Homo sapiens: one gene and its partners. The protein of the gene in region 1 purifies or fractionates together with the protein of each later gene. This does not show direct contact. Each region holds a gene or a part of one and is shown in the gene's direction. Other genes may lie near its edges. The genes, in order: INSIG1, ERLIN2 and SREBF2.

Region 1 (7,106 bases):
ATTTTACACATGAGAAAACAAACATGCAGAGCCACGTCCCATCAGAGGGCAAGCTGGGATTTGAGGCTGAGTTTTCTCTTCTTGGTCTGGTGTTCTTTCCGCAGCTTGAGGCTTGACCATGCGGGAACCAGATGGAGAATAAGCGAAGCCTGTGTGGGGCTGTCTCGCCCCGTACTTGCCCATGTGCATGTGTGCACAGTAGGTGCTCAGTGCCTCGTACAGAACATGCTAGAACCCCCGAAAATCAACTCCAGGGCCACTCTAGGAGCATGTGACCCAGACTGTCAAAGTCACATCAGCAAATATGTATCTCATCACGTGCCCAGCCCCAGTACTGGGTGGTGGCAGGAGTGTCAGAGCTGTGATGTGACAGGGTGTGGACAGATGCTAACCTTTTTATTGTAAGATAGAAATCACACCGGATGAAAAGACAAGGTGAACTACATAGTCATTTAAGTTCTGTGTGCTTTAGGCAAATGTGGATATTAAATATAAGGTTACATATTGCTCATATTAATATGAATAATCCCTGCTTGATTCCTTCCTGTGTTTACTGAGACATGTTCAACTACACTAAATAATAGTGATTTTTAAAAAACTTTTCCAAACAGTACAATTTTGTGGGAGTGGTACTCAAAGAGAACAAGAATATAAAATCACTCTGAAGTTATAGCTGATAATTTTTTCTAGGAAAAGGACTGGTTTGAGTAATGTACTGTGTTACTAATGACCACGTTGAAATTCTGGAACTTGAATCTGCTGTATTCTAACATTGTCAACTTTTTTAAAACAGCTGTTGTTGGCCTACTGTACCCCTGTATCGACAGTCACCTCGGAGAACCCCACAAATTTAAGAGAGAATGGGCCAGTGTCATGCGCTGCATAGCAGTTTTTGTTGGCATTAACCACGCCAGTGCTGTATCCTTAATTTTCTGTGCTACGTCCAGAGTATCTTCTTAGGTTATATATTGAAGCGTTTTGTTTTGTTATATACTCAAATGACTCCATGTCATAATACAGACATGATGGTGGTACCTACCCATTTCAGATTACTAAAAAGAGAAAGAAGAATGGGGCTATCGATGACTTCATAGTAAAATATATTGTTTTATGGTCAAAATAAATATATATTTATTTATATTTTTATATATATTATATATATTTTTAAATATATATAATATATATAATAAATATATATTTATATAAATATATATAAGCACTTTATATATAGCTTTCAGCAAGTTTATTCTTATGGTTAAGTTTTTGACTCAGTGATGGCAGGGAGATTTCAGGTGATCTTAATGATTACTGTAACCTGTATCCAACAAATCCTTTCTTTAGCTTATTACACAGTTTTTATGGACAGTGAATTATCTGTGGTACAATAATAAAATACCCATGTTTTTAACCCTTGTGGTTTTACGTTTTTTTATCTTAATAAGAGTCAGCAAACTTTTCCTTAACTTTTATATCACCAGAAATTGGATTTTGCCAATAATGTCCAGCTGTCCTTGACTTTAGCAGCCCTATCTTTGGGCCTTTGGTGGACATTTGATCGTTCCAGAAGTGGCCTTGGGCTGGGGATCACCATAGCTTTTCTAGCTACGCTGATCACGCAGTTTCTCGTGTATAATGGTGTCTATCAGTAAGTGTGTGTTTTCAAATATTGGCTTTGGAAAGCTTACTTAACTTTCATTAAAACATCCACTAAGCTTAGATATTTTCATATTTTATTTGTTTTTTATATAGAATGATACAGATTTAGGCATGAAATTCTCAAAAATGCTGCTATCCATAACTTAATGTAACGCAAAGGAAAACCAAGTAGTAGCAGTTACAACCAAACAAATATGAACATTCGTAACATTGGATGGTTGATATGCGTTCTGCATATCCCCACTACAGAGAATCTGTGATGTAGAATTGAGCCAGGTGAAATTGACTGCTAAGGTACAGTTTCTTTTCTCGCTCCAGGTATACATCCCCAGATTTCCTCTATATTCGTTCTTGGCTCCCTTGTATATTTTTCTCAGGAGGCGTCACGGTGGGGAACATAGGACGACAGTTAGCTATGGTAAGTGAAATGATCATATTATCTTCTAAAACTTGCGTCTCTTTACCTTGATAGAATGACTTTACATGATACATTCAAATTTGCGTTCATATATTCTGGTTCAGACTTGAGTGACAACTACTGAGAAAAGCTTATATTTAAAAAAATAGGTAATGATACCCAGGTAATTCTTTGCTAAATTATAAAAATTCATAATATTTGATCTAGAAAAGGAACTAGAGCCCTCGCACTGCCCCTTTGAATTGCAGATGTGGTCAGTGTTCTGAATTCTTGAAATTTCTGTAGTAAGCAGTAGAGAAAGTGACTGGTGTGTGAGTGTCCCCTCCTCCTTCACCATCGGAAGCAGATCTGGATGACCTCATGCAGTGATACTTTGCTCCCTGAGCATCAGTCCACCAGTGTTTCTTTTCACAAAATCAGAGTGGATGCAGATGATGCTGGCCTCTTAGTCCACAGTCAAGCAAATCGAGCCTGAGGCTGCAGAGTCTGTCTCGGGCCAGGGCAGGGACTAATGTGGGTGGGCAAGGGGACAGCCTGGTTCAGGCAGGCAGCACCTTTCTGTGGGGCAGGTGGCCCTGGGCATGGAGAAGTGGTGATGAGAGCACCGCTGCACGTGGCCGGGTCACCATGTAGACGGACTGTCCTGCCTGAACATTGCATCTGTTCTCAGCTGCAGGAGAAAGCAGTGCTACCCCGCAGAGCTTCTCTCACAGCCCCCCTGAGGGAGACGGAAAGGTAGTGAACTCCAGGATGGCTTTAGCAGTTCTCATTAGTTAAAAATTGACATCTTAGCACTTCAATTTAAAAACATAGAGGTGGACTTTTAAATGTTATTTTGAGTTGACTTTGGCAGGCTGAAAGAAAGTAAATTAAAAAAAACAACAAAAACCTAGAGCTGTTGCTCTCGGAGATAAGCTCTGGGAAAACTTATCTTAGTACCTCATGCTATTTTTAAAACAGTACATTTATTTTTGCCAGCTGATACCCTTCTGTGAGGAGTTGAATTTGAAGACCACTTGGCTGTTTCACAAAACCAGAAGTAATTACAGGTAGAATTTGCAGTCTTCCACTGGTTACTGACTCTCTGCTGCCAAATTTCTCATGATGGAGAAGAAAGGACTTTGCTTGCCTTTTTTTTTTTTTTTTTTTTTTGAGACAGAGCTCTGGAGTGCAGTGGTGCCATCATAGCTCACTGTAACCTTGAGCTCCCGGACTCAAGCAATCCTCCCGCTTCAGCGTCCCGAGTAGCTGGGATTACAGGCACATGCCACCATACCCGGCTAACTTTTTTGCTTTTTGTGGAGATGTTATCTCCCTGCCTTGTCCAGGCCGGGCTCGAACTCGTGGGCTCAAGCCATCCTCCCACCTTGGCCTCCCAAAGCACTGGGATTATAGGCGTGAGCCTGGCCTTGCTTTTTTTAATATTAAAAATCTGGTCGGATGGTCCCACATGGAAATAGTATGTTGTTTTCATGCATTCGCCATCATCCCCGTTAATAGTCTTCAAAGGAGAGCTGGCAACTCCATCATTGCTTTCTTGCTTTGAGATTTTTGTTTCGGTACTCTTTGGGAGAGAATTCCTAAGAAGGTTTTTAGAATAAAATTGTCCTCAACCAGATTGACTAATTACACATTATAACTACAACTTGAATAACATTTAAAGAGTTGGTTATTTCTGTTTGATAGGTTGGTGCTGTTATATGTCAAGGCTTTTTAAATCGGTTTTAAGAAATAAGCATTATTTTGGTGGAGGTAGAAATTTCACAACATTCATAAGTTCTAAACATCTAGAAATGGTTGGAGGAAACATTTTCGTTTTGAAGATAGTTTCATTAAGTAATCCCTGCTGTGCTCCTTTGCTTACAGAAAAAAATGTTAAAGATAACTCAAAATAGGATAGTTGGTGTAATTATAATTCTCCTTACTTCAGCTTTCTCTTCATCCTTTTTATTCTTTAAGCTTGGGGGAAAATGTTTGGATGTTCTCGTATCTTAAAACTGGAGGAGAGAGGCTGGGCGCGGTGGCTCACGCCTTTAATCCCAGCACTTTGGGAGGCTGAGGCGGGCGGATCACGAGGTCAGGAGATCGAGACCATCCTGGCTAACACAGTGAAACCCCGTCTGTACTAAAAATACAAAAAAAAAAAAAAAATAGCCAGGCGTGGTGGTGGGCACCTGTAGTCCCAGCTGCTTGGGATGCTGAGGCAGGAGAATGGCGTGAACCCGGGAGGCAGAGCTTGCAATGAGCCGAGATTGTGCCACTGCATTCCAGCCTGGGTGACAGAGCAAGACTCTGTCTCAAAAAAAAAAAAAAAAACTGGAGAAGAGAGATCACCACCTTAATCCCCTTCCCTGCTGGGCTATCACATGAAACTGACCTCTGAGGTTCTAAGCCTAACCCGCCTACCACTGTTTTTATTCATAAATACTTAAATCCTTACCTCTGGATCCCAACTGTTACTCTTTTTTTCACTTCAAAATTTGCAAACTCATTTCTATCCATCAAACCCCGGAAATGGCCCAGGGGCTTCACAGTGCAGTCCCCTCCCTCCTGCTGCATCCGTTCCTCAGGCTGTGCCCCAGGTTGCATTCGTGGTGCGTGTTTTCTCCCAGGGCAGCCTTCCCCACATTCCACTCTTGTCATACTGTTGACTCACAAAATGGAAGTGGCTGAATGTTCCAGGGATAGTGTCTAAGAGCTATTGGTTTAAGGTTGAAACCTACACCAAGTAAGGCTTTGTGAAGGGAGATGACGAGAGTGAAGTTGTTGACAGTCTGAAGGTGAAGAGATTCCGAGGCTCAGTTCAGCACCGGGACCAGACCCGCCCAGATCCAGGGTAATTTGAGGTCTGTGTTTGGTGCTGATGGTTTTGCCCAGTGCACTCCACACCCTCTCCTTCTTAGCTGTCTCAGTTCTCTTCAGATGCCTTTGTTCTAACTTATGCTTCCCTCCCTTAAGAAGAAACATAGTTACTTGCAAGAATAACCATGCTCAAAAGTTACAAGTTGGCTTTGCTTCAAGTTATATGGTCTCCTAGCTTTTTCTATGTGGTATTTCCCCCCACACATGCCGTTGTCCTTTGTGTCCGAAAATACAGCAGAAACATTTGTTATCAGCCTGTTACGGTTTTTTTGTTTGCTTTTTGTTTGTTTTTATTTTTACTTTTTTTGAGACGGAGTCTTGCTTTGTCACCCAGACTAAAGTGCAGTGGCACAATCTTGGCTCACTGCATTTGAACCGTCTCCCAGGTTCAAATGATTATCCTGCCTCAGCCTCCCAAGTAGCTGGGATCACAGGCGCCCACCACCGCACCTGGCTAATTTTTCTGTTTTTAGTAGAGACGGGGTTTCGCCACGTTGGCCAGGCTGGTCTCGAACTCCTGACCTCAGGTGATCCACCTGCCTCTGCCTCCCAAAGTGCTGGGATTACAGGCATGAGCCACCGCGCCCGGCCCAGCCTGTATGTTTAAAAGAAAATGAGTCTGTAACCATCATTTATAGAACTTGTAGTTGTTGCTGTTTGTAGCTTCAAGTCCTTTCTCAAGAGTAAGCTGCAAACTGCCAACAGCAATCAAGCCTGTCCTGCTGCCACTGCCCGGCCCCACTGGGCCACCTGGAGGCAGAGTCCCGCCCACCTCAGTGTCAGCTTGGGATTTGATTTGCCGTTCCTGTTTTTGATTGACCCAATTCAGCTGCTAATGATAATAATACTATTATTGTTATTGAGGGTTTACATTTGTTGGGCTCTTACTGCTGCACAGGAGGCATTGTGCTGAGCGTTTCCATTGTTAGCCAGTTTAGTCCTCATAACACAAGTCTTTGAAGTAGAAACTATTATTAGCCCATTTTTAAAAGGGGAAATTGCAGCTTAGGAAGATTAAACAACTTGGCCAAGTGGGTGGCAGAGGTCGACGTGGCACCGTGCTTCTCATTAGCATACCACACTGCCCTTTCAACACATAGCTCGCACCTGCCTTCACCCTGGAAGCAGGTTTACAGCAGCCTGTGTTGGTGTCTGGGTTGCCATTTACAATGTGCCACCATTAGGCAACACTGCTGGAAGTCCCTGTGCCACGTGTCAGGTCCGCCCGGGCTGGCTGTCGTTCGTCTCTGGCGTCTTTGCCAGGCCTCACTGTGGCCTCTGTCGACCAGGGATTCTAAAAGTCCACTTCCCATTTATTTATCAGCACATTAGTGAACAGGGAGTCAAATGTGATGACCAGTTTTCTTTCCAGGTTGCTGCCAAGAGTTTGCTCTTTTGTTTTCTCACCGCAGTTTGTATAGAACCCTCCCAGTGTTCATATCTAAAAATTGGCAGTGCTTTCACATGATCAATTCCTAAAAGCATGTATGTTTCCTAGAAGGTCTTATTGTGTGTGTCCCCAGGGTAGTAACTGGCATACCTGGGTGACTCAACCCAGACTCATGACTTTCTTACCTGTCTGTTCAGATGAGAGGCTCTTGCTGTTTTCTGGATGAGTAATCTCCGTCATTGCTGAAGGTGAGGAGCTCAGCTCCTTCCTCTTAAAGTGAGTGGAGGGCAATTAAGTAACGTGGGAAGTCACGATTCTGAGGGAAAAAAATTCTGTATGGAGGTTTCTCTTTTGCCCTTTAGCAGAAGCTCCGTGGCCTCAGGAAGGTCATTTAATCTCTCTGGCTTTGCTTCTTCATCAGTGAAATACTGTTCTCCATTAAGAATTTACCCTGAGGTGCCTGGTCATAGTAGTAACTGTAGTGTCTACCTCTCAGAAGCTCTGTGAGGGTCAGATGAGGAAGAACATGTAGAAAGGATTTCCCAACTGTGAAGCTCTGTGTGAATTGAGGGCACACAGAGCTTCAGTATTACAAAGCATGACCTATTTCCAATGTCTGTTTCAACAAACTGCTGGTAAGGTGGGTTATAACACAGGCATCAGATACTAATAAAGGTTTGTGGCAGAAACCTCCCTTCAGATAAAGGTTCAATCCCTTAAATTGCAGTTAGAACTTTCAGGAACCTATCATACCCTAAGCATCACCATGCTTTGATAAAA
Region 2 (7,952 bases), on another chromosome or scaffold:
AGAGGCTTAGAGGGAAGGGCGTGGAGAAATTGCACAAGATTATAGGCTGTGGCTAAAGAACTGGTAGAAAGAGGAGATAATTAAAGGCTCTAGGTCCCTGAGGAAAGAGGAGGGATACGATTAAGAAACCAGGTGAAAAAAGATTGGCCTAGAGTAAACATGGGTTACCTTATCCTCTGAGACTCACATCGCCGTATACAAGGTATCTCTTATATACAGCAAAAAAGAAGTCTATCAATGACATAGAGAGATGTGTAAATACATATATGTAGATAAAATTTCATATAATCTTTTAAAAAAAATTCCTGTTACTGTAAGTTCAGAGTTGGAGGGTTAGAGATGTCAAAGGAAAGGTCATCCCAGGCAAATCAGGCCAAGCCAAAATGCAACTGCCAGGCTTGTTGGAACAAAATCTCAAGGTCACAGGCTACTCTTCTCATCACCCCTCAAATGCAGTAGGAACCTTAGCCAAGCCCCCTTTCTGAAGACTTCTTCTCCCTGGACTTCTCTACAAGTAAAATAAATGGGTTGGATTAAAATCATAGGCAATAACCTATCTGTCCATCAACAGGTGAGTGGATAAACAAATTGTTGTATAGCTACACAATGAAACACTACACAGCAATAAAAAGGAATGAACTCTTGATAGACTCAACAACATGGATGAATCTCAAAATAATTATTCTGGGTTTTCAAAAAAGCCAGACCCTCCCCCACAAAAAAGGGTACATACTATACAATTCCATGCATATAAAATTCTACAAAATGCACACTAATCTAGAGTGGCAAAAGAAGATCAGTGGTCTTTTGAGAATCGAAAAGGGGGTGTACCAAAGAGGGGTAAGAGGGAGAGATTACAAAGAGGCATGGGGAAATTTGGGGCCATGATGCATGTGTTCATTATACTGATTGTGGTAATGGCTTCACAGGTATTTGCAAGTCAAAATGTAAATTGTAGACTTTATGAACAGTTTATTACATGTCAATTATATCTCAATAAAGCTGTAAAAATGTGTAATCACAAAAGGACCTTTAGGTGCCTTCTAGCTGACTTTCAACTCAATTTTTTTCCTGATGGCTCTTTGATCTCTTTACCCAATGCCTTGAAGAAACATCATTAGCCCCAAGCAAATATGCTTTTGTTCTTGGAAGGCACCAATCCCGGTTTTTGCAACTGAAAAAAAAAGAAAAGAGGAAAAATTTCTGAGCCCCCTTAATAACTAAGGATACAGTTCACTCCTCTTCCCATAAGCTCACCAAAATCTTACTGGAATCAAATGTTCTAAAAGATTATTTCTATTCCCTGTTTTAGGGCCTAAAGTGAAAAAGATAAACTTTAAATCAAACGGAAACTTTTTCCAGCAACTTCCACTCTTGTGATACTGAACTGAACTGAAGCAGAAGATTTTAAGAGTTGCCTGAATCCTTTGGACCTGCTTATTGGCTTAAAAAGTCTAATTGTGAAATTGACTTAAAAATTCCTAATTGTGAAAGAAGGGGTCTCTTCTTTGGCATGGCACTCTCACTAACAATTTTCTTGGTAAGAGGACCCAACAAACAGCAATAGAAATAGAAAACTATGGATTGCTAGGTGAGAGTATTTTTTAACCTGCTTCAATCTACAACTGCAAAATGAACTGGCCCAATTTAATTAGAAAAATTTCAGTTTCTGACCACTGATCTACATTACTGAAAGGTTACATGTGAAATAAATGTGGGGTGTGTGTGTGTGTTTGTGTCTGAAATTGAATCATTTTCTAACTCATTCACTATAAAAAAGAAATAGACGGGATCATTTGAACTCTGCCTTTGCAATTTATCATCTTCGTGATCTTAGACAATCTCTTAATTTCTCTAAGCTTCCACTTTCTCCTCTAAAATGGAGTTGAACTCAAAGGGCTGACCTAAAGTTTACATAAAATGAGAAAATGTAAGGTACTGGGGCTGATACATAGACAGTATTCAATAAAGCTTTATGAAATCTGTATTGTAAATATCCATTGAGGTATAATTTCAGAAGCCTTTATCTCTTCTTCTGATAAGCCTTCATTTGGTTATTATTTAATACCATACAACTTAAAGTTTATCATTCTCTCGCCCTGTGTCACATTAATAATCTGCAATGATAACCCACAAACATGCAAGAATACATTAAGGGAATTTGCTATTTAAAACAGCAACAGCTAACACTTGGTGAACACTTAAAATGTACCAAATGTTGTATATGCTTTTCACAACAGTCCTATAAGTTTCATACCATTATTACTTTAATTTTATAGATGAAGAAACTGAGGCAGGGATAGATCATTTTTCCAATGTTACAGAATAAGAGGCAGGCTCCAGGATTTAAACAAGGCAGCCTGACTGTGAAGTATCTGAGCTAAATCACTACTCTATACTGTGAGGTTTTTTAAAAAATAAAATTTTAGCCGGGCGCAGTGGCTCACGCCTGTAATCCCAGCACTTTGGGAGCCCAAGGCACGTGGATCACTTGAGGTCAGGAGTTCAATACCAGCCTGACCAACGTGGTGAAACCCCATCTCTACTAAAAATACAAAAATTAGCCAGTCGTGGTGGCATGCGTCTGTAGCCCCAGCTACTCGGGAGGCTGAGGCAGGAGAATCGCTTGAAGGGAGGCAAAGGTTGCAGAGCTGAGATCGCGCCACTGCAGTCCAGCCTGGGTGACAGAGCGAGACAGGAAGGAAGGAAGGAAGGAAGGAAGGAAGGAAGGAAGGAAGGAAGGAAGGAAGGAGAAAAAGAAATTGTAAACATTTTTGTTAAACAAATCATCACAAATGTATCTGCTGGGTAACATAAAAATCACAGGTCTCTTAAGAAAGAGATTTTCAGAAGTACTAGATCATCATGTACTAGCACATCACGAAGTCCATCCCCCTGCCTTTAGGCACGTCCACAACTAAATAACTCAGGTCTGGTAAAATGACTCCTAAGAACAAAATCCCAAAACTTCTAGCCACAATTCACTCCAAAGTTTAATGTGAGGAAATTTTTGTGTTTTTATTATTTTTAATTGACACATAATAATATACATATTTGTGGGAAGGGGAGGGGAGACGGGTTGCCAGAGGTTGGTTAAAGGAAATTCTTAAATTACAAGTAATTTAAATACTTGATGCTGCAGGCTAGCCCCCATTTCATGGGTTGATGAACCCTAATATTTCCATTTTTCTTACTCAATTATTAAATAAACTATTAAATAAGCATGCCCAGCTGAGGTTATATCACTGAACAGGGAGAGAAAAAACTCAAGTTCTGATAGGATTGATCGAGAGATTGGCCAGCTGTGTCTGTTTGGGGTGGGGGATGCAGGGACAGAGTAGGGAGATGAAAGGCCTTCATTTATGGAGATGGGCACAGAGCTCCCAGACAGCACCATGTAACCCTCGTATGGGTTTCACCATGTAATGCTGAAACATCCCAACACCCAGAGCAAACGCAGGAAAGGTAAACGGGCCAATCCCAAGCAGGCATGCCTGGAAAAAACCACACTTCCCTTTTCCTGAGTCTTAAATCTGTCTAACACCACCAGCTTGCCATCTTCCCGGTGTAAAAGTTTTTCTTTTACTGAAGGCTATAATTAAGTGGACTCTTTCTCTCCTGCAAACAAAATATTAATAACCTCAGTGGCTGAATTAGAAATGCCCCAATGTGATGCTGGTGAATAGGGCAGGTGGAGGACAACGTGAGGCCCTTAGACTAGGAGACACAAACTCTGGATTCCGGGCCTGGTCCCACGTTGCCTTCAGTCTGTTTTTACTGGGCACCTAAGCCCCGGGGGTGCGGAAGGAAAGTCAGTCTCTGCTCTCCCGGGAACGTACAGTTTATCTAGAAAGACGAAGTGCACTAGCCCCTGTGCACTGTGGCAGGAGTTTAAAAAGCAGTGAACTCAAGATATTAAGGAAACACAAAGGAAACTTTCCTTGGCTTTTACCCTTGAACCTCGCTGAACTTCTTAGATTCCGTTCATTAAAATTAGAATAATAATTCCTTGTTAATATACTTTGTGGCGTTGCAGGATCCCAAGGGCCAAAGCTCCCAGAAAAATATAAAGAACAACTCAAGGTAGGGATTTTTGATTGGTGAGGTAATGATGCTAATCTGTACATTGAAAAGACTGTTTCATTTCAGCTGTGCTATAGGAAAGCAAACAGTTGCAACTCGCCAGTACCTTATCAAGGAGAGAAAAAAAAAAAGGCCGCGCATGGTGGCTCATGCCTGTAATCCCAGCAGTTTGGGAGGCCGAGGCAGGAGGATTGCTTGAAGCCAGAGTTTGAGACCAGAAATACCAAGACCCTGTCTTTACTAAAAATAAAATTGTCAAGTGTCGTGGCGTGCGCCTGTGGTCCCAGCTACTCAGCAGGGTGAGGTGGGAGGATCGCTTAAGCCCAGGAGTTCGAGGCTGTAGTGAGCTATGATCGTGCCACTGCACTCCAGCCTGGGCAAAAGAGCGAGACCTTGTCTCTAAAAAAACCAAAACGAACCAGGTTCGGCCTAATGCAGAAGGAAATCCGGAGCAATCCCCAAAGTCAACGCCTTGGAAAGGTTCGCCCTGGGTCTCAGTACTCCGGGGCATGCGCGTCCTGCCGCTCGCTCTCGGGGAGCTCCCACCAACACCGCCCTCATCCCCAGCCCCAGGACGGATACCCAAGACCGAGGTCCAGGACCGCACCGACCAAGTCGCGGGCGATCCCTGGCGGCCAGCTACGGCCATTGACCGCTGGGAGCGCGAGGGGCGGGGCGCAGAGCGAGCGCGGGGCGGGGGTGTGGTCTTCTCGCGTGAATTGATGGCGTCATCGAAGCGACGGCCCGGAAGGAAGTCGCGTGCTGAGGGGTGTGACGGTTTTCTTGCTCGTGGGCTCGGACGAGTACGGAGCGCCTGCAGGGACAGCCTGGTACGCGGCCCCCGCCCCTTCGTGCGCGCGCTGGGCCTAGCTGCCGCTCAGGGTCGGGGCTGACCCGTCACTTTCGGGAACCTCAGTCCCAGCAGCTTCTCTCCCTCAGCCGGCCCGCTCCTGGAGAGAGACAGAAACCCTTTTCTGTCGCGTCCTCTCCTTGCGAGCCGCAGGGGGACCGAGCGGAGGCTATTGGAGCCGCAGCCCCAGACCAGGGCGCTTGACCCTCTCTCGGAACGGGGCGGGGAAGGGGCGCGAGTGACCTCGGGGAGGGAAGGGCACTGGCAGGAAAGGACGCAACTGCAGATCGGTAGCCGGAGGCCGCCACGGTAAAATAAGCGCCTCGCAGATGTCCGCGCCCCGGTTACGTTAGACCTGGGAGGCAGAATCCACGCCCTGCGCTCACGGGCCCACGCACGCACAGCTGAACTTTGCAGTCAGTCACCATAGTTCCAGATCATTCAGCGTTCAGGATCCCACTCCTCCGCGTCCTGGTGCCTGAACGCGGTTGGACCTAGGAGCCTAGAGGCTCGCAGTTTGGGACATTGCCTTTCTCTCTGACCACGGGCTTGGGGATCTGTCAGGTGCAAAGTGCCAAAGTATATGGGGGGGAGTGTGGCTTCAGGCTTGTTCAGAGCCCTGTCCTGTTTAGGGCCAAAGGAATAACTGGGAAGGTGGATGCGAGGCCAACGAATCCTACCTTGAAACTCTGCTCGCCTGCTGGCTCTGCCACTCCAGCATCTGAAAGGAGTAAATAATGGTTTCCTTTGAAACTGCAGGCAATTAGGAGTGGGAGACTCTGACCAGAATTACATAGCCACAACTGCCTGTCATTTGGCATCCTCTGTAATTTGGGCCAAAGTACTGCAGCTGCCTCTCTTCCCTACTACTGGTAGGAAAGGTTCAGTGACAGCACATTCGTGTTCACAGGAAGACAAGGCTGTGTTCTGAACCCTACCCAGCTGGCACGGGTTCTCCCTTGAGCAACGGCTGTATCCGGAGCCAGTGCTTCCTCAGTGCGGTGGGGGCTCTAATTTTACAGTTAAAGAAAGGGGAACGTTGACTGAGAACGAGGAGGAAGCGAGTTGTAGATCTAGCCTTGTGTTCACACGACACCAGGCTGGATATGAGTCACTCGCAGGGAGCTCAGCTTGGTGAGGTCCTCTCGCTGTTGTGGCCTTTTCTCCTGCACGTTGGACCACACACATTTTCCCGTGTCTTTTCCCTAGGATAAAGGCTCACTGATGGCTCAGTTGGGAGCAGTTGTGGCTGTGGCTTCCAGTTTCTTTTGTGCATCTCTCTTCTCAGCTGTGCACAAGATAGAAGAGGGACATATTGGGGTATATTACAGGTAAGGCAGAGACAGGGAGAAGCCGGCAACTTCCTGTTAAATAGCTCCCTTTCCTGGTCATTGCTTTCCTAGCAGATTCTGCTGAACATCTCTATTTATATTTCCTTGAATAGGGGAGCCTTTTCAGATGGAGCTTTTTATGTCAGTAACCACGGGAAAGAGAATACACACACACACATATATATGTAAATTTAGAACTTCACTTAGTAGTCCAAGATGATGCCATGGGTGGTGATTAATAAATGTGTATATAGATTTAGAGACAAAATCTAAAGGAAACTGGTGCTCCTCATTGATCATCCCTAAAATACTGTTTTCTCCTACATTCCTCTGGCAGTCTTAGCTCTACATCCCTCTGGCAGTCTTAGCTCTACATCCCTCTGGCAGTCTTAGCTCTACACTGCTAGGTTACCTTTACAAAAGCCAGCTGAGTACCAGTTCTTGATGGCAACTTGAGAAGGTAGCCTACTCTGCTAATTTGGGATGCTCTTTTAAAATTAACATTTCAGCCAGCCTGGGTCACATAGTGAGACCCTATCTCTAAAAAAATAAAATAAAAAATAAAATTTTAATTGGCCGGCTGTGGTGTCACACACACGTAGTCCTAGCTACTCAGGAGGCTTAGATGGGAGGATCACCTGAGCCCAGGAGATTGAGACCAGCCTGAGCAACATAGTGAGAGCCCATCTCTACAAAAAGTAAAAAATTAGCCGAGCATGGCAGCACGTGCCTGTAATCCCAGTTATTTGGGGGGCTGAGGTGGGAGGATCACTTGAGCCCAGAAGTTTGAGGCTGCAGTGAGCTATGATCACACCACTGCACTCCAGCCTGGGTGACAGAGCAAGACCCTGTCTCTAAAAATAAAATAATATTAACATTTCAAGAAAAATGAAAGAGCCTGCAGGTTGACTTACGTCAATCAAAGCAAGCCTTAGGATAGTGGTTCCTACAATAAAGGAACCCATTATGTCACTGTTTATTTTATTGGTTTTTTTTTTAATTCTTTGCCTAATATAAAGCAAAGAAGCACTTATAAGTCTTGGGTTGCTTTCTTTTTAGTAACCTCCATGACCAAGTGTTTTGCTTTATGTCTTTATGAACTCTTCTTATATGTGCTGTTGTGATGCTTGTTTCTGGATTGCTAACAGCAAGTTCTAAAACTCTGATTGGAATTCCTCTCTCCTTTAATTCTTTCTCCCCATCATCTGCTTACATGTTCCCCAAAAAGGCTTTTAACTTCATCATTTACATATAACTTGATTAGAAAGGTAACTCTATTGCCAAAACATATATTTCAATTATTTATAAAGTACTTCAAATTATTCTTTTGGTTGGTCATGTCATTGGACTCCAGCATTAGTGCAGGTAGTTGATAACCATATTACTGGACTTAACTGCCCTAATGGATTGCCACAAGCCCAACAGATATGACAAAGTAAAACAGACTTCTTATCTTTTTTTTTTTTGAGACAGTCTCGCTGTGTTGCCCAGGCTGGAGTGCAGTGGTGAGATCTTGGTTCACTGCAACCTCCGCCTCCCAGGTTCAAGCAATTCTCTGCCTCAGCCTCCTAAGTAGCTGGGATTACAGGTGCCTGCCACCACGCCTGGCTAATTTTTGTATTTTTAGTAGAGACGAGGTTTCACCATGTTGGCCAGGCTGGTCTTGAACTCCTGACCTAATAATCCAC
Region 3 (7,106 bases), on another chromosome or scaffold:
TCTGTCCTTCCAGAAGACCTGGTTTATAACAGTGCATAAGGCTTTTTCTCAAAATAGTTATATACCGCACAAGGAAGAGGTGTGGCTGTTGTGTCACAGGAGACCTAGGGGCCAGGTTTGGGAAAAGTGGTTCCATGTCTTCAGTTGATCAACAAGTATTCAAGTGCTGGCTGTGGTTTCTGAGCTGTAAGGAATCGTGAAAGATAGCATAGAATTTTATGGCTTCATGGAGCTTGAGATGAGAAACTCTAGTGCCAGTATGGAACAGCTTAAAATTGCACAGCACAACAAGTAAAAGTCAGCAGTGAGGGTAGCTTGGTAAAGGCTGGCTTAGCAGGAAGACCACACCAAAGAGGTGGCTCTTGACCTGGGCCTTGGAGGACAAAAAGAGTTGGGCATGCTGAAGGTCAGTGGTCTGAAGATAAAATTATCCCTTGATTCTCACCCCTGTGTTCCCATTACTGAATGTTAGCTCCTTGAGGCAGAGACCTTCGTTTCATTCCCACTAAATTCTTTGAACCTAGAACAGTGCCTGGCACAGTGAGAGTGCCCATTAAATATTTGTGGAATGCCTGAGTGATCCAGTGATCTTGGGCTGGGCAGGATACTAATTGTCTTGGACATGGTTTGGAGTTGGATTAGATCAAGGAAATAGCCAGCCTGGATGCTTCTAGGAGCCGGTCAGGTGAGGAAGGGGAGAGGCAGGCAGGGTGAGTACATTTACTTCCTTTGTATGTGTATGGTGGGGATAAGGGGTGGATGCAACCTAGAGAGCCTCCAGGAGGTGCAGGCAGGCAAGGATCCATTCATTCCACAATGTCTGCTGTGTTCCAGTCCATTGGTACCCTTCAAGGATATGGGCTCAGGGAGGCCACATTCATTTACTCATTGAATGGCTTCTAAGTATTCATGATGGACAAAGGATAACTTGAGCGCGACAGATCATGTGTCTTCTCTCTCACGAAGCTTACATTCTTGATGGAGGAAATACAAGTTGAGTAAAATAAATGAACAGTTTAGGCAGGGCACTGTGAGCAAAATAAAATTGGGCCATATTATAGAGTGTGACTGGGCTAGCCTACTTAGATTCGGAAGTCCAGGGAGGCTTCTTGGAAGAGAGGTATCAGTGTCTGTTTTTCAAGAGATGCCGAAGTCTGGATTTTTATTTGAAATACCCAGATTTTTGGCCGGGCACAGTGGCTCATGCCTGTAATCCCAGCACTTTGGGAGGCCGAGGTGGGCGGATCACCTGAGGTCAGGAGTTCAAGACCAGCCTAGCCAATATGGTGAAACCCCATCTCTACTAAAAATACAAAAATTAGCCGGGCATGGTGGTACACGCCTATAGTCCCAGCAACCCAGGAGGCAGAGACAGGAGAATCACTTGAACCTGGGAGGCAGAGGTTGCAGTAAGCTGAGATCATGCCACTGCACTCCAGCCTAGGCAACAGAATGAGACTCTGTCTAAAAAAAAAAAAAAAAAAAATGCTGGACACGGTGGCTCACACCTATAATCCCAGCACTTTGGGAGGCCGAGGCGGGTGGATCACCTGAGGTTGGGAGTTTGAGACCAGCCTGACCAACATGGAGAAACCCCGTCTCTACTAAAAATACAAAATTAGCCGGGCGTCGTGGCACATGCCTGTAATCCCAGCTACTCAGGAGGCTAAGGCAGGAGAATTGCTTGAACCCGGGAGGCAGAGGTTGCAGTGAGCCGAGATCGCGCCATTGCACTCCAGCCTGGGCAACAAGAGCAAGACTCTGTCTCAAAAAAAAAAAAAAAAAGAAAGAAAGAAAGAAATACCCAGATTTTTATATGTTGGCTCATTTAAAAAAAAAGTACTATAGGCACCCAATAAAGCATGTGTGCTAGTTGATCTCTGGGGTCTTGTACTACTGCAGAACGTCCTGTTGTCCCAGGCCCCCAGGTTTCCCATAATAGAGTAAGTCTACCATTTCATTTTGTGTTATATATCTCTATTTTGAGAAAGGGCCTCATGTGCCATTACACACCAGGTCTTCTGGAAGGGCAGCAAGGTGGGATCCTCTTCCACTGGGATCAGGAAAGAAACAGTCATGGAGGTGACCTTTTTGCTGGGTCCAAATAGATGGGTGGCAGGAGCAGCCTGACAAGTATGTGGGAGGAGTTAGAACAAGCTGCCTTTGGAAATGAAAGTTTACTAGAGATTTCTTGGAATATAGTGTGTGTGAGGAAACAGTAGAAGATGAGGTCTGAGAGGTGAGGTGGAGCTAAATTGTACTGTAGATGCAAGGTGTTTTATGGAAGATAGGGAATTGTTGAAGATTTTCAAGTAGGGGGTGACATATTAATCATGGGTTTTTAAGAAAATTGAATTGTGGGCTGGGCTCAGTGGCTCATGCCTGTAATCCTAGCATTTTGGTAGGCCGAGGAGGGTGGATCACCCGAGGTCAGGAGTTCGAGACCAGCTTGGCCAACATGGTGAAACCCCATTTCTACTAAAGATGCAAAAATTAGCCGGGCATGATGGTGGGCACCTGTAACCCCAGCTACCTGGGAAGCTGAGGCAGGAGAATCGCTTGAACCTGGGAGGCGGAGGTTGCAGTGAACCCAGATTGTGCCACTGTACTCCAGCCTAGGTGACAGAGCAAGACCTTGTCTCAAAAAAATAAAAGAGAAAGAAAAGAAAATTGAACGGTGGTGATAGGCAAGGAAGATTGGAGGCAGGGAGGCCAATTAGGAAACTGTAGCCATCCAGGTGTGAGGTGATGAAGGGTGACAAATTTGGATGGGAAGTGGCCCTCATTCAAATACCTTTCCATGGCACTGACTTGGGCCTCTGCTTGCTTCTCCCTGCAGAAACCCAGTTTGACAGAGTACCCTGCAGTACCTGGCACTGACTAGGTGTTCTGTAAAGGTGTGTCTGATGAGGAAAGGAAAGCACCTCAAGTTCAGTCTGAGTGTTCACACCATTGGGAAGGTTGGAGTGGCCAACTGGGTGAGCAAGGAGTGAGTGTTGGGGATGTGACAGGACATGTCCTCACTGAAGGCTTGTCCCTGAAGGCAGAGCAGAGGGAGAATTCTAAGATCCCATTAAGACTTTGAGCCTGGAGCACTGGGGGAGTTAGGAGTCAGCAGAAAGAGCTGGTTAGGGGAAATGATGAAAATTTATCTTAATTGTGCTGAAATTGGGGTGCCTGGGGGTCATCCATTAGGAAATGAGATGTAGATACTTAGGAGAAGGTAAAACTGGGATGGAGATTGAAGAGAGTCACTGCTGAGTCAAGAGGAGAGAACTGGGAGATTAGAGGTTAGGAAAGTGTTAGCTTTTCAAGGAGTAGTCTGTAGATGGTGGAGACAATGCCACAGAGAACAACAAGGATGACAAGGCCATGCAAGGAGTCGTGGGACTTGGTATTAGGAGGCCAAACCTTGCCAGAACAGTCAGATGAGGGAATCCAAGGCAGAAAGGAAGCAGGGGTGAGTGGGAGATGGGCAGGTGGAAGCAAGTAGTTCTCTTTGGAGAAAGTAGAATAATTTTTTCAATGAGCTGATCTACTTTCTGTCTTGATGAGTTTGCCTGTTCTGGACAACTCATAAATGGAATCAGACAGGTAGCATAATATTGCTTAGGTTCATCATGTTGCAGTGTAGTGTTCCATTGCATGGACACACCGCATTCTGTTTTATCTACTCTTCAGTTGGTGGACATTTGGGCCGTTTCCACTCTGGCTACATTATGAATGAAGCTGCTACAAACTTGTGTACAAGTTGCTGTGTGGACATATATGTTCATTTCTCTTGGGTAGATCTTCTACATTTTTTGTTGTTTATGTTTTCCAAGAGCTTATAATAAATAGTCCCATTTATTCACATGCTTAGTTTCTTTTTTTTTTTTTTTTTTTTTGAGACGGAGTCTCACTCTGTCGCCCAGGCTGAAGTGCAGTGGCGCGGTCTCAGCTCACTGCAGCCTCTGCCTCCTGGGTTCAGGCAGTTCTCTGCCTCAGCCTCCCAAGTAGCTGGGATTATAGGCACCCACCTCCACACCCAGCTAATTTTTTGTATTTTTAGTAGAGACGGGGTTTCACCATCTTGGCCAGGCTGGTCTTGAACTCCTGTCCTTGTGATCCACCCGACTCGGTCTCCCAAAGTGCTGGGATTACAGACGTGAGCCACCGCGCCCGGCCCACATGCTTAGTTTCTATGTTCCTGTAACTAATTTGCCCTAAATCTTGTGACAGAAACTTGCAATGTGGTGGTCAGTTCCTTTCTTTCCTGTCCCATCTGATGGCTATGGTTTAGGTCTGCTCTCCCTTCACTTATCTTGGGACAACCCCTAACCATCACCCTTGGGGGCAATGTTGAAGCTCTTCTTTCCCAGTTCTTGATTTTTACTCACTTATTTTAGTGGAGCACATCCTCCAGTGGCTTCCTGAGAAAGAGTACATTTAGGTAACTCTTCGAGGCCTTGCCTGTCTAAAAACATCTTTCTACCAACCTCATTCCACTTTGGTAGTTTGGCTGAGTTTAGAATTTTAGGTTGGACAGAGTTTTATGTCAGAATTTTGAAGGCATTGTCTGATTATCTTCTTGCTTCTAGTAGAGAAATCTGATGCCATTTCCATTCTTGATCCTTTGTGTGACCTGTTTTCTTCTCTGGAAGCTTTTGGGATCCTGTCTTTATGTTCTGAATTCCATGACAACGTGCCTTGATGTGACTGGGCCGACAGTCACTGTCCCAACTTGTTGGGGCTCTGGAGAGCTGTGTCTGATACCTGAATTCATGCAGTCCCCCTGCCATCAGCCTCCTTGTCACCTGAGCCTGCAGAGGAACTTCCAGTACCTGAGCCTTTCCATGGCACTGATTTGGGCCTCTGCTTGCTTCTCTCTGCAGACACCCAGTTTCATCTTTGGCAGAGTATCCTGCATGCAGTACCTGGCACTGAATAGGCACTCTGTAAAGGTGTGTCTAATGAGGGAAGGAAAGCACCTCAAGTTCAGTCTGGGTGTTCACACCATTGGGAAAGTTGGAGTGGCCAACTGGCTGAGCTAGGAGTGAGTGTTGGGGATGGTTGTGGTCAGCACACCCCTAGGAGGTGGAGGTGGGAGAAGAGTGGAAACTGACTTCACATTTCTCCAGGGAGGGATGCTTTGGAAAAACTGCTCAGTGAGATGAAGCACAGATCTGCTTTTCATCCCTTTTGTACCTTTTTAAAGACATAAGGTATGTTTTGACACTGGAGTATATATGAGGGTTGCTAACGTTTGGGTTGAAAGAGCTGCTGTTGTCCACAGCTTATTTATTTTCCACCCATTTTTGTCTCCTGGTCTCATCCAGTTACATTTCCTGGGATATGTTTTTGGAGGTTGCTCAGATCACGGCACTAGAGTCCCTTTGGGTTTCTCCTCCCTCCTCTGTCTATTTGGCCTCGCCCTTGACAAACATTCCCCACATTCACACCCAGGCCTTTGGCCTAATGTTCTTGAATGCTGCTTGCCTCTCATTGAATAGGCTTTTATGTAGCTCTCATATTCAGTTCATATTTTGGCATTTTAAAAAATATATATTTTTGCTTCTTTCTCAACTAGATCATTTCACTCCTCAAATTTGTAATTAAAAAAAGGAAATTCTCAAGCAGTTTTATTCAATTAGAACTTTGCAAATATCAAATTGTCCGTATCCTTCTGGATTCTCGTCTGAACATTGCTTATCTGCGTACATATCACAGTGTTTTCACATAGGGATTGCTGTATGTTGAAGTAGTTGAGGTGTAATAGCCATATAATCTAATGTGATCCATCTGAATAGGCAAACCCTTGCACACCTGTGTACCTGTTGAACATTTTCATCATTTGCAGTTTTTTCTTAACATAAGCACTGTTCTGAATACTTGTGAACAAGTCACTTGGGAGTTTGTTCATGGGCGTGTATCTTCCAAAGAGGAGTCTTCAAGTTCAGCTGGGTAACACACTATCAGCTGTAGCCCTTTCATTTTAAAAACATTTCCAGTGCTGCAAATTACTATGGTGATTGGGAATTACAACTTGGAAATATTTTTATTTTTTTAAAAGATAGTACATTCATATGAATCAAAATAAAATACATAAAAAGGTACTATGAAAAGTCTTGCTCCCGGCCCTACCCACTATCTGCGTAGTCCCACCGCTCCCTCACAAGTAATTAAATTTTTAGTTTCTTTTACCTGCTTCAAAATGTATTTGTTATTACAAAAGAAGCTAATAACAAATATTGATTTTAGTTTTTGCTTTGCTTTCCTTTTTGACTGAAAAAGTTAGCATGCTATAAGCCCTGTTCTTCTGTGCCTTGCCTTTTCCTTTCTGCTTACCAATGTATCTTATAGATCATCCCAGACTTTTTCACTGCTGCATGGTTTTCCATTTGATGATGCCCTGTAATTTATTCATCCAGTCCTTTTTTGATGGACATCTGAAGGTATTTTCAGTCTTCTGCTATTAAAAACAATGCTGCGAATAGCTTTGTAAATTCTTCCTTTCACACATGTGCAAGTCTAGAGGCAGGAGCGGTTACCAGAAGTGGGATTGTTGGATCAAAGCCAGGGTGGTGCTGTCTCCGACATAGTTGTCGCAAGAATCCAGTTAGGTAAAACATAAGAGGGGCTGGTCACAGTGGCTCATGCCTATAATCCCAGCACTTGGGGAGGCCGAGCCGGGTGAATCATGGGGTCAGGAGATCAAGACCATCCTGGCTAACATGGTGAAACCCTGTCTCGACTAAAAAATACAAAAAATTAGCCGGGCGTGGTGGCATGAGCCTGTAATCCCAGCTACGTGGGAGGCTGAGGCAGGAGAATCGCTTGAATCCAGGAGGTGGAGGTTGCAGTGAGCTGAAATCGCACCACTGTATTCTAGCTGGGACACCAGAGCGAGACGTCCGTCTCAAAAAAAAAAAAAAGATTATAATGGAGCTATTGCCATACCATCTAGGTGTGTGTAAGTATACTCTGTGATGTTTGCACAATGAAGCAGTTGCCTAATGACACATTTCTCAGAATGAATCCTGTTGTCAAGTGACACATGACTTTATTTGATAATGAATACAAGACCATTTCATCTTGATCCCAGATAGATACATTGAGATGCATTG

Evidence for each region.
Region 2: the proteins of INSIG1 (region 1) and ERLIN2 purify together in Homo sapiens (affinity purification with western blotting; 4 studies listed by BioGRID and IntAct, with this or other methods). This does not show direct contact.
Region 3: the proteins of INSIG1 (region 1) and SREBF2 purify together in Homo sapiens (affinity purification with western blotting, with the first as the bait; 2 studies listed by BioGRID). This does not show direct contact.

Annotation. Positions count from the first base shown.
Region 1 is NC_000007.14:155,300,773-155,307,878, forward strand, and holds part of INSIG1 (insulin-induced gene 1 protein), read left to right. Parts: intron 1-793; coding exon 794-918; coding exon of another isoform or gene 919-948; intron 949-1,478; coding exon 1,479-1,645; intron 1,646-1,974; coding exon 1,975-2,074; intron 2,075-3,052; coding exon of another isoform or gene 3,053-3,123; intron 3,124-7,106. UniProt on the Homo sapiens protein: Oxysterol-binding protein that mediates feedback control of cholesterol synthesis by controlling both endoplasmic reticulum to Golgi transport of SCAP and degradation of HMGCR.
Region 2 is NC_000008.11:37,731,766-37,739,717, forward strand, and holds the start of ERLIN2 (erlin-2), read left to right. Parts: upstream 1-4,868; 5' UTR 4,869-4,913; exon of another isoform or gene 4,914-5,663; intron 5,664-6,142; 5' UTR 6,143-6,157; coding exon 6,158-6,264; intron 6,265-7,952. UniProt on the Homo sapiens protein: Component of the ERLIN1/ERLIN2 complex which mediates the endoplasmic reticulum-associated degradation (ERAD) of inositol 1,4,5-trisphosphate receptors (IP3Rs) such as ITPR1.
Region 3 is NC_000022.11:41,836,091-41,843,196, forward strand, and holds part of SREBF2 (sterol regulatory element-binding protein 2), read left to right. Parts: intron 1-7,106.